Linked DNA regions of Homo sapiens: region 1 is linked to region 2. The links come from fine-mapping of genetic effects on gene expression. A gene starts in region 2. The other region holds a variant in brackets. All regions are shown on one strand. Distances are from middle to middle. Region 1 overlaps FMNL2 (formin like 2). Region 2 holds the start of FMNL2 (formin like 2).

What was found. PIP is the estimated chance that this variant, and not a neighbour inherited with it, causes the effect.
Region 1: its variant is fine-mapped to the expression of FMNL2 in whole blood (INTERVAL, PIP 0.98).

Annotation. Positions count from the first base shown.
Region 1 is chr2:152,610,739-152,616,116 of GRCh38, reverse strand. FMNL2 (formin like 2) reads right to left here. Exons shown (of 26, transcript NM_052905.4): 11 at 4,512-4,622; 12 at 1,117-1,266. Among named protein-coding and RNA genes, the nearest start is that of PRPF40A, 100 kb to the left of the region's middle. RefSeq lists an enhancer at 3,736-3,815. The variant A/G (reference allele first, on the strand shown) is at 3,074.
Region 2 is chr2:152,332,519-152,337,896 of GRCh38, reverse strand. It overlaps FMNL2 (formin like 2), which reads right to left and starts at 2,723. Exons shown (of 26, transcript NM_052905.4): 1 at 2,177-2,723. The coding sequence starts at 2,293. RefSeq lists silencers at 1,664-1,763, 2,274-2,923.

The DNA of each region.
Region 1 (5,378 bases), 280 kb before region 2:
ACAAGTAAAGAAAACCAGGGAGGCAAGGTAAGGAGGAAGAGTGGAGATTTACACTGATTGGGTTCAGCATATAACACAAATCTTCTAAGGGAAGATATACTGGGCCTGTAAAATTCTCTTTTTAAGCGGATGCCAGCTGGGTCATAGCGGCACTTTTAAAGGGAGGGTTTTTGGCTCACCAACTTGGCTTACCCACAGCCATGAAGAGACCCATTTTCACAGTGATGGGGAAAGGTGAAGGAAACTGAGCATATGCAGCACTCTTTAAAAAACATGTGGAGAAAAATAAATGAACTGTTCAAAGGAGAAAATAATAATCCTCCAAAAGGAGACACTTCATTTCATAATCAAGGAAAGTGCTCACCAGACTCACCAAAAGAATTTGGTCTTCATAATGCTTGGGTTTTTGAGAAGCACCATTTTTCTGTTAATTCTTTTACTACTGAAATATGTGGTTAATGAATGAACAAATAATCTCTAAAGGCCCTTAGAGTCATATTCAAATCAGTCTATGGCAAGAAAAATCCCTCAAAGAAAAATGAGACCCTGTCCTGTGATAGAGCTGACAACGATACTGAGGACATTCTTCAAAGAACAGGATATATGAGAAAGCACACCGATGTCCTTGAAAATGCCTATTGTTGAAATGACTCTATTAAGAATTTGAGTACCGTAAGACAGGAATGTTCAGACATGCATCACAGAGACACCAGCTAATCCTGTCCATGGGTTTGTGTGGACATAGTTGATAAGAAGATACCTCTTCGCCTCAGGCCAAATTCTCATATTTAATTTCCCTCTAATCATTTACGTAATGCCAATCATCAAACACCCCCACTCTGCTTGAGCCTGTAAGCAAGACTGCCAGGAAATGCACCTCAGCAGAAACTGAGCAGGTAAGTGAGCTAAAGCAAAGCAACAGATTCTATTTCATTTTACATAACACATCTGCTTTTTGGAAAAAACACAGAACAGCTTCTGATAGCTCTCTCTTGCAGGGTATGGCCTATTCCTATACTCCAAATCCTTAAATTTACCACCATAAAAGCTGACATTAATTCTGCTTTGCAACCAGCTGAAATGTAAGCAATTTTTCCTTTTCTGAGATATAGTTACATGAGAAATGTTTTCTTCCAGTTCTTCCACCCTCTCCAAGGCAGCATTCTTAGTTTCAGCATCTTCCAGTAGAGCTCCTACATCAAAAACATTGTCCAGGTAAGCCTGGATCTGGACTTGAAGCTTGTCACTCTCAGTGTGTTTCAGCTTCTAAAAACCAGAATAGGAGAGAACGTGGTGTTAGCTCATCTATGGAAATAGAACATCATTTCCTAAGAGTCTGTCTTTTTTGTTTTTTGTTTTGTTTTGTTTTGTTTTGAGATGGAGTTTCACTCTGTCACCCAGGCTGGAGTGGAATGGTATGATTTCAGCTCACTGCAACCTTCACCTCCTGGGTTCAAGCGATTCTCGTGTCTCAGCCTCCCAAGTAGCTGGGATTACAGGCACGCGCCACCACACCCAGCTAATTTTTGTATTTTTAGTAGAGACGGGGTTTCACCCTGTTGGCCAGGATGGTCTCGATCTCCTGACCTCGTGATCCACCCGGCTCAGCCTCCCAAAGTGCTGGGATTACAGGCGTGAGCCACCACACCCAGCCAGTCTATGTGTTTTCTTTTCGACAAATAGTCCAGCCCTTTCCAAGAGAGCTTAACATGTCATCTTCCTTAAGAGAATTATGGAGTGACTGCCTAAGCAGTATCATCAGATGACTTTCGGGTGAATACGCTCTCCCAAATGCACACACATTTTCCCCCAAATCCTTACTGCCCCATGTAGTTATATTCCTATGTAAAACATTTTGATATACATGAAATTGGGACAACAGAAAAATTAAAAGCAGCTTTAACAGGTTATAGTCATGGCCACATAAAACCTGAGGGGTATCTGTGTAGTGGAAAAGACTGGAGTGTTTGGTATCTTACCTGGTTAGTTACAGTGGTTCCAGTAGGGGAAGAAGGTTAGGCGAGAGGTGGGGCAGACACTGACAGAGTTTATACTTAGCCTTGGGGATTATTTTAGCACAAATTGCTAGAGCCCAACCTCCACACATCCCTCCCTAAGTCAGTATACAGCATGAACAGCTCAGGGCTCCCCAAGGCAGATCAGAAAGCTTTCCCCAATTCACTGCCTCCCAAACTAGGCATCCTGCAGGGACTCAGCTAGCTCTGGAAATTAGAGGTCAAATAAATCAGTGAATCTTCCCTACAAGTAACATAAGTCATGACTTTCCCTGGGGAACAGATGAGTGATTAGAATAATACCTGGTGCATGGATGATGCCAATCAACATTTATTGAACAAATCAATGGCTACTTACAAGGCTGGGTTTTTGTAAACTAGTGAAGCATTTATATAGCATACATTTACATTACTCTTCTAACCACCTCTATTAGGTTCCAGAGTCAACACATGATGAAGTTAAAGAAATACAGAGTTTTGACAAAAAATCTTACATTTTTAAGAGAAATTCCACTCTACATAAATTTTCAGAAAAATGGATTTTCCCCTAGGTTTAATCTGGAATTCTACAATACAGCTTATTCTGAAGAGAGAGTGTTCTGTTTTCATTTATGAGTCACAAGTGAGAATGGCTTCTAAATAAGGGCAAAGGCTAGAACAAAAGGAGAAGCAGCTTAATGGGATTTTTCATGAGATTCACAATGAATAACAGGTGTTCAGTGATAAGTGGGTACCTGCCGTTATATTCTACAGCATAAACAAGCTCTGCTCAGACACCACAAAACCAAACCCAAAACACCGCTAGGAATTTATACATCCAATTTTTGTTCAAATACTGATACTTTTAGAGCATAGGAGAAAAAGGGATAGACAAACCTTGATCTCAAAGTAAGAAAGAGTCTTTCTGTACAATATTCTGCCAGTGATATAAATGAGCCTTTAAATAAAAAGGAAAGCAATTCAAACAACATTTTAATGGAAATCTATTACGCCTCTCCCTGAGTAGTCTTTAGACAACAGTAGGCCCATCTATTCAAGGGCAGCCCAGCCAGTCTAGG[A/G]AGCAAGGCCTTCAGGTTGAGAGTAACCACCTCTGTGATTCCGTCTCCTAATAAACTGAGGGTACAGTCTGTGCAATCCCTTGGGTTTATCTCTAACAAAGATGGGCAACTGAATTCCTGAGATGCCCAAAGGAAGTACTTCTATATTCTTCACAGCTGGAAACAGGCTTGAAATTCAGGTCACCGGCTGGGTGCATTACTTGAGGCAGGAGTATGAGACTAGCCTAGCCAACATGGTGAAACCCAGTCTCTACTAAAAATACAAAAATTAGCCAGGCATAGTGCCTGTAATCCCAGCTATTCAGGAGGCTGAGGCATGAGAATCGCTTGAACCCAGGAAGCAGAGGTTGCAGTGAGCCAAGATTGCACCACTGCACTCCAGCCTGGTTGACAAAGTGAAACCCTGTCTCAAAAAAAAGGAAGGAAATTGAGGTCAACAATTCTTGCTCTATCACTAGACCATTCCTATACAAAAGGGAAAACAAAACTGCCTGGATCCTCAGGTCCACTTCTTTTCCGTTTTAGACACAGGGTCTCGCTCTGCCACCCAAGCTGGAGTGCAGTGGTGCAATCACAGCTTGTTGCAGCCTAGAAATCCTGGACTCCAATGATCCCCCCACTTCAGCTTCCCAAGCAGCTGGGGCCACGGGCACATACCACCACACCTGGCTAATTTTTTGGTGTTTTGTATAGATGGGGTCTCACTATGTTGCCTAGCCTGGTCTTGAACTCCTAGGCTCAAGTGATCCTCCACCTCAGCCTCCCAAAGTGCTGGAATTACAGGTGTGAGCCATCAGCCTTTTCAAGACCATTTCTGATTTTCACAAGTTTCTGTTTCTTAACTGAAGAACTTCAGGGAACTGGCTAAACTCTTCTGCAAGGGAGTGAGAAAAAGGGAAACTTTAAACCTCCTTCTCCTAAGAACTAAAAGTGGAACTTCTAAAGCCACAAACACTTGAAGCAGAATTTAGCAGCTTCAGGAGGAAGTCTCTGGTGTCCATTTCCTCATTATTTTTTTTTTATGCTCTAAGCACTGACTCATCACTCTACAGTCTTGGCTTGACTTTCTCTGCCCAGATGGGGTCCCCGGAGTAACCAAGAACACAAATTGCCCAATAGCCCAGATGAAGGATGCAATGAGACTTGACCCAGATGAAGCTCAAAAGGAGAGGAAAGCTGCAGCAAGGCTGCAAGAGGTTATCTGACTCCCGTACTAAAAGGCTGCTAGCAGAAGATGACCTGAGATCCCAGGAGCCCTGCAAGAATCCAGCATCTCTGGCAGAGTACATCACTCAGCTCAGTTCCCTTTAACTAGCACTACAGTAGTTGACTGCATAGAGCTTTAGGCATTCTTTAGCTGCTATGGAAGCGTACCTTTGAGGGCAGGCAATAATAAGTCAATTCTTATATTGGAGCCAAAGGTCACAGCTATACTCACGTCCAAGTATTCGTCCAGGCCTAATTTGGTAAATTCATACTGCAGGTGAACTCTGAAATTCATATCTTCTACTGAATGGACTACAATATTAATAAACTGCATAGAAGCCACCTGAAATGAAATTGTCAAGGGGTTAGATGGGCTCCAAACTTTTTTCTCAGTTTAACTGCAGACATGTGCTTTCAATTTCATAAAAAAGGCTCACTTACCGATTTCCTTTTCCTTCATTTCATTGGTTCTTTAAAAATATATATATGGTTTTTTTTGGAAATGGAGTCTTGCTCTGTCGCCCAGACTGGAGTGCAGTGGCATGATCTCGGCTCACTGCAACCTCCGCCTCCTGGGTTCAGGCGATTCTCCTGCCTCGGCCTCCCGAGTAGCTGGGATTACAGGCAGGTGCCACCACGCCCAGCTAATTTTTGTATTTTTAGTAGAGATGGGGTTTCACCATGCTGGCCAGGCTGGTCTCAAACACCTGACCTCGTGATCCGCCGGCCTGGGCCTCCCAAAGTGCTGGGATTACAGGCATGACCCACTGCGCCCGGCCTCTTTAAAAATATTTTATACTTATTTTTAAATTCAAAAGTCACAGAGGTACCACAATAAGACACCACTTCGCACCCACTCAGATGGCTATAATAAAAAAGAAATACAGTAACAAAAGTTGGGAAGGATATGGAGAAATTAAAACCCTCATCCATTGCTGGTGGTAATGTAAAAAAGGGTGGCCACTTTAAAAAGTGTGACTTTTACTCAAAATGATAAACACAGCATTATCATATGACCCAGCGATTCCGCTTCTAGATATACAGTTAAGAGAAATGAAAATATACGTCCACATAAAAATCTTTACACAGATGTTCAGAG
Region 2 (5,378 bases):
TCCAAATGCGTCCCTAGGAAGAGGGTTCCCAAGCTGACCTGGTCCCCCAAAAGCTTTGTCTCTACTCAATAAAAGGTCAGCCTGGTATTGTTTTTGTTTCTTGATTGAGAGGCTTAGAATATTGTAAACAATTTTAAAAGGAATTGCACCCAGTAACTGCGACACACAGTAGTGTAAAAGTAGCCACAACAACCCTGCCCCAAGAAGCTTGGGATGTACAATCATAATTGTCTAAATACTATATTTGCAACTGCTAGCCTTAACAAGAACACAAATCCACCATGTTAATGATGGGACATTATTTTTCTAAAGATTAATTCACACCATGTGTTATTAATCAGCAGGGTAAATGAAAGCTCAAGCAAAAAAAAATGCTATCCTAGTCAAGCAGAACTTAATTGCATTATTGTTATTATTATGGCTGCTGCACTGGTTTCCCTGTGTCACTGGCTCCTCCACCACAAGTATTCAGACACACACACACACACACACACACACACACACAGAGCACCACAGCATGGATGGAAAAACAAAAAAGCCAGAGCCAGGAGGAAAAAAAGCCAGAGCCAGGAGGTAAGAACCATATGTCTAGTAGGAAGAGGGTTTTGAAGAAAAACGTTTGTCTCTGGAAAAGCAGGTCAAGTATGCACCCAGGCCGCCTTGAGAGTTATGCCTAGGCCGTTTCATTTCAGTGTCCCATCTTGCACAACGGTGGGAGCAGCTGTGGGAGATCACAGGAGATGCAAAGCAACACAAGCAACCTCATCTGTCTCCCCGACGGCCACACCAGAGTTTCCAGGTGGCGGGAGAGAGAGCTCAGTTCTCCCAAAGAGCACACAGCTAACCTGCCATCCAGAACATCACTTCCCATACCAAACCATTCCTTTTTCAAGGCCTGAAGGCAGGCAATTTGAACGTCCTGTAGCTGAGCACACCTCAGAAAACCGATTTTTGATCTAGAACTCGAGTCCTCTGCCAAAGTTCTAAGTTTTCATGAAAACAAAAGAAGAAAAGAAAACCCGCAGGCAGGCACAATCGTTGGCTGCCCGGATCACGAGTTTCCCTTGCTGCCTAGTCTTGTGGAGTTTAGAGGTAACCAACTAGGAAAAGAGAAGTGTCCAAGTGTCAGGAGTAGGAATGAGCCCAATCTCGCCTGTGTGTGTCCCTCCCAACATCCCTTAGAAGAGGCTGGGACACTAAAACTGGTAGTCTGGGGGACCAACAGCAGTCCAGATCCTGGCTGGGGCAAGCCGCCACACCCTCTGCAGCTCACAGCACAAGCCTCGGCTGGGAGGGGCCCAGACACTGTCCCAGCAGGAAAGGGAGAAAGAGGGGAGTTTTCAGAGTCCTGGATTTGAGGAGCTGGAAAGCTGGGAGAAGCGGAATGCAGGAGGGAGCGGGGGACCTGGCTGGGCGTGCAAGAGGAGGGGAGGGGTCGCCCGTGCAGTCAGGACAGCTCGCAACACGTCCCCGCAAAACTCCACATTTTTGTGGTTTAAGATTTAAGTCTAGAGGGAACGCGCTGAGGTTCTCCCCGGCCTGGGTTTCAGATGCCCCTGCTCCTCGCCAAGGGCCGGGGCGCCGCACTGCTGTGGGTCTCCGCTTTCCCTTTCGGGGAAGCTCCCCTTGGCCAAGCCGCGACGTGAGCCCTCCAAGTTCGCCTCCGCTCACCGCCCGGCGCGGCGCCCGCGGCCGGCCACATGCGCCCCATCTGCCGGGGACTTCGCAGGTCCCGGGCTGGCCGCCCGAGGGATGGTCCGCAGGGGCTCAGGGTGTTTTGTTTTGTTTTGTTTTGTTTTGTTTTTTTTAAAAAAAAAGCCTAAGCGGCTCGCCACCTCCTCCTCCCAGCCCGCGCCACCTTCTCTTCACGCCCACGCCGCACCTCCCGGGCACACGCGCCGTGAGGTGCCTCTCCAGCCAGACAATGGGTTCGAGGCTGGTTGGGCAGCCGGCCCTGAGCCCCCATCCCCATCCCGGGACCCCGAGAGACTGAGCGCGGGGGACTGCCAGGGGGGTGAAGAGGAGTGCTGGGGGGCCACAAAGGGGAAAGCGGGAGCCTCCCCCTCGGGAATGGAGGCTCGCTCCCGGCACGGGGTGAAGGGGAGGGGCGGGGGTCAGCTGCGCCGCCCGGCCCGGGGCCCCGGGTCCCCGCGCCCGACCGCCGCCGCGCACTTACCAGCACGATGGCAAATCGCTCCTCCAGTTCACCTGGCTCTGGCATCGGCAGCTTCAAAGGCACGTTGTGCGCCCTGAAATCGGTCTGCTGCGAATCCATGCTCCCTGCGTTGCCCATGTCGGCGGCGCGCCGGGGCCGGGGGCTGCTCCGGGCCCCTAGCGTGCGCGTCGGAAATCAGAACAGCTCCCGGCGGTCGGCTGCCGCCCGCAGGCGCGACCTGCCCGGCTCCCCGCCCTCCGCCGCGCCCAGGCGGGTGTGCGGCGCGCACCGCTCCCTAGCAGCGCTCCAAGCCGAGCCGCCCCCCGGCCTCCCTCATGCTCTCCGCCGCCCCAGCGCGGCCCCGGCCTCTTTTCCTCGGGAGGGGTAGTTGGGGCGCTGGGCGCCTATGTGCATGGTGCTCCGCTGGCACACCGCCCCCTGCCAGAGATCGCGGCCCCCGGCGCGTGGTCCCTCCTACTCGGCCTTCTGCCGGGCCCGCGGCCGCCGCTGACACTTCCAGCCCTAGCCGGCCACGGCTGCGCCTGCCTGGCTAGCACCTGGAGCAGACAAATGCAGCTCCGCGCTCCCCTACACAATGCCACCTCTCGCCCGGCGCCCGGCCCCCGCCCCCGGCCCGGCTCCGCCCACTCGCCCCGCGGACTGCCGGGACGCGTAGTTTCTCTCCAAAGTGTCCGCGCGCAGAAACCACGCCTGCTCTAGAGCGCCAGGCCGGGTTGGGACCATTTGCAGCAAAGGCGATCCGTAGTCTCTGGAGATAGCATATTGTCACTTTTGACCCTCCTCACCCCAACAGTGGAATACTTACATCGTGTATATCATGTTGACACTTGGTAGGCGGGTCTGACCATGACGGAATCGAATCAATGAATGAAGGAATGCATGCCTTCTGATTAAAATTCAGAAAATCGTTGCTGTTTTTAAAAGATCTAGTTCAGTAAGGAACTTCGAAAGCACTGGCAAAGTTCTGTTTCATAAACGGGGGGGTGGGTCCATGGGTGCTTGTTTATCGTTCTTTCTTCCATATATATGTTCTTTGGTGTGATTGAAATGTTTTATAAACAGATGTATAATTTATGGGTATATATAGTCAGACCCTAGGAGCTAGGTAAGGATTCAATTCAATTTAAAAAAAAAACCTGTCAAACACCTATTATGTATGGGATATTGTGTTCCTTGGTGGGAGAAAAAAGAGATTTGCCCTGCGCTGGAATACTTGCCAATCTAGTGAAGGAAAAAATGTACACACCCATATTTCATGTGAGATGGATATAATGATAGAGTGTTCTGGGAGACTTTGGGATGATCTTTGGCTGCAGCTCTCTTATTCCTTCACAGCAGTCTTGAGCAAGGTGTCTTACAGAAAAGATTGGACCTGACTCTGTCCTCTGGGGTGTATTTCAGACTATAACTACCCGTTCTGAAACCTCGGAAATAGAAATAGCCTTATAAGAGACTTTAGCCAACTGCTCATGTGAATGTTAAGGGCATACATCTGGTTGACTTGTGGCTGAACTTCTGCAGTTAGTCCTTTCTTAGTTTAAAGCAGTGTTTCTTAATCCTAGATGTGTATCAGATTCGCTTGGGAAGCTTTTTGTTAAAACTACACACACCTTGGGCTCTGCGTATTATCAGAATCTCCCTAAGCTGAGAGCCGAAGCCTGGGCCGGTGTATTTTCAACAAGCTCCCCAGGTGATTTTGATATGCAGGTAAGGTTGTTATCCTTTTAGTAAATAGCAAGTGTTTCTGGACAAGGTAGTACACCAAGATTCAATCAAGGACATTTCATTCATCTTTATAAACTTCAAGATACTTTAAACATAGTAGACGCCCAAGAACTATTTGTGGAATTGACAAGTGACTTTTTCCAAAAGCATATGACACAAATACACACAAATACATCATGTATGTTCTATTAAACCACTTCTAGTCTTTAAAGAATGGAGACAGTATAAATAAATTCAACTTAAAATTCTGAATAACTGTAACCTGTATTTCTAAAGCAGTGTTGTATCAAAGTTAATAGCAAATGTGTTACTGATCTGAGAGAAAAGCAGGGCGGTTTAGATACACACACACTCCAAACTAATGAAAATGAGAGAGAAAGAAAGCAGTTCGGACCAGGTGAAACATTTCTGACCCACAAATGTATTTATTTCCTTGTAATCTCTAGACATATACTTTGGATCTGATTGACTCACAAAATCAGCCCACCCAGAGGGTTGCCCATCTGGATAAAAAAGGCTGGAATTCTTTTCTGCAGTTGAGAAAGCCTTTTTGATTACATTTATGTCTCCCTGCGGCTATATTTCTGCCAGTAACCAAGACCTTTTTCTCCCCTTACGTCTTATCACATCTAGTCTCTCTCATAAGCTCACACTTCGAGGGAAGCCAAGGAAAAAGTGTGCAAATCTATGAACCAAAAGAACTTTCCTGCCATTTCAATGTTTGGAATCTCTAATATTTGGTTGTTATTTGTGATTATTAAGAGGAGAAATAAACACTCCATAGGCTTGTACAATTTCTATAAGAATCCATCAAAATCTTAGGAAATTCTTTGCGGGGAGACGGCATGGAGGGAAAGGAAAGAAAAGACATTTCTATTACCTTAATTGTAGCACTCTTCCTCCCCACAGAATTAAAATCAAGCAATCATTTAAAAATGTATATTCCATTTATTATTATTATTATATATGATTTGTTACAGCTCATGTGCAAAATATTGGCAAAAAAGAAAATGTCTGGGCCGGGCATAGTGGCTCACACCTGTAAGCCCAGCAGTTTGGGAGGCCAAGGCAGGAGTATTGCTTGAGCCCAGGAGTTTAAGACCAGCCTGGCAACATGGAGAAACTCCATCTCTAAGAAAAATGCAAAATTATTAAGAGACAAAAATGGCGAAGTATGATCTTCCAGGTACACTCCACTGGAAAAAAAAAGAAAAGAAAAAGAAAGCCAGTTGTATGGGCATGCATACAACTTCCTAAACACACTGTGTGTGCTCAATTCCCCAGGGTAAGAAGAGCACCATGCATGCAGAACGCCTACCCTAAGGGAAGAATCATGGGAAAGAGAGATGGGATCTCACTGTTGCCCAGGCTGGTCTCAAATTCCTGGCTGCCAGCTATCCTCCTGCCTTGGCCTCCCAAAGTGTTGGGTTTACAGGTGTGAGCCACTGTGCCAGTTTGATATTCTTTATAACAAAGC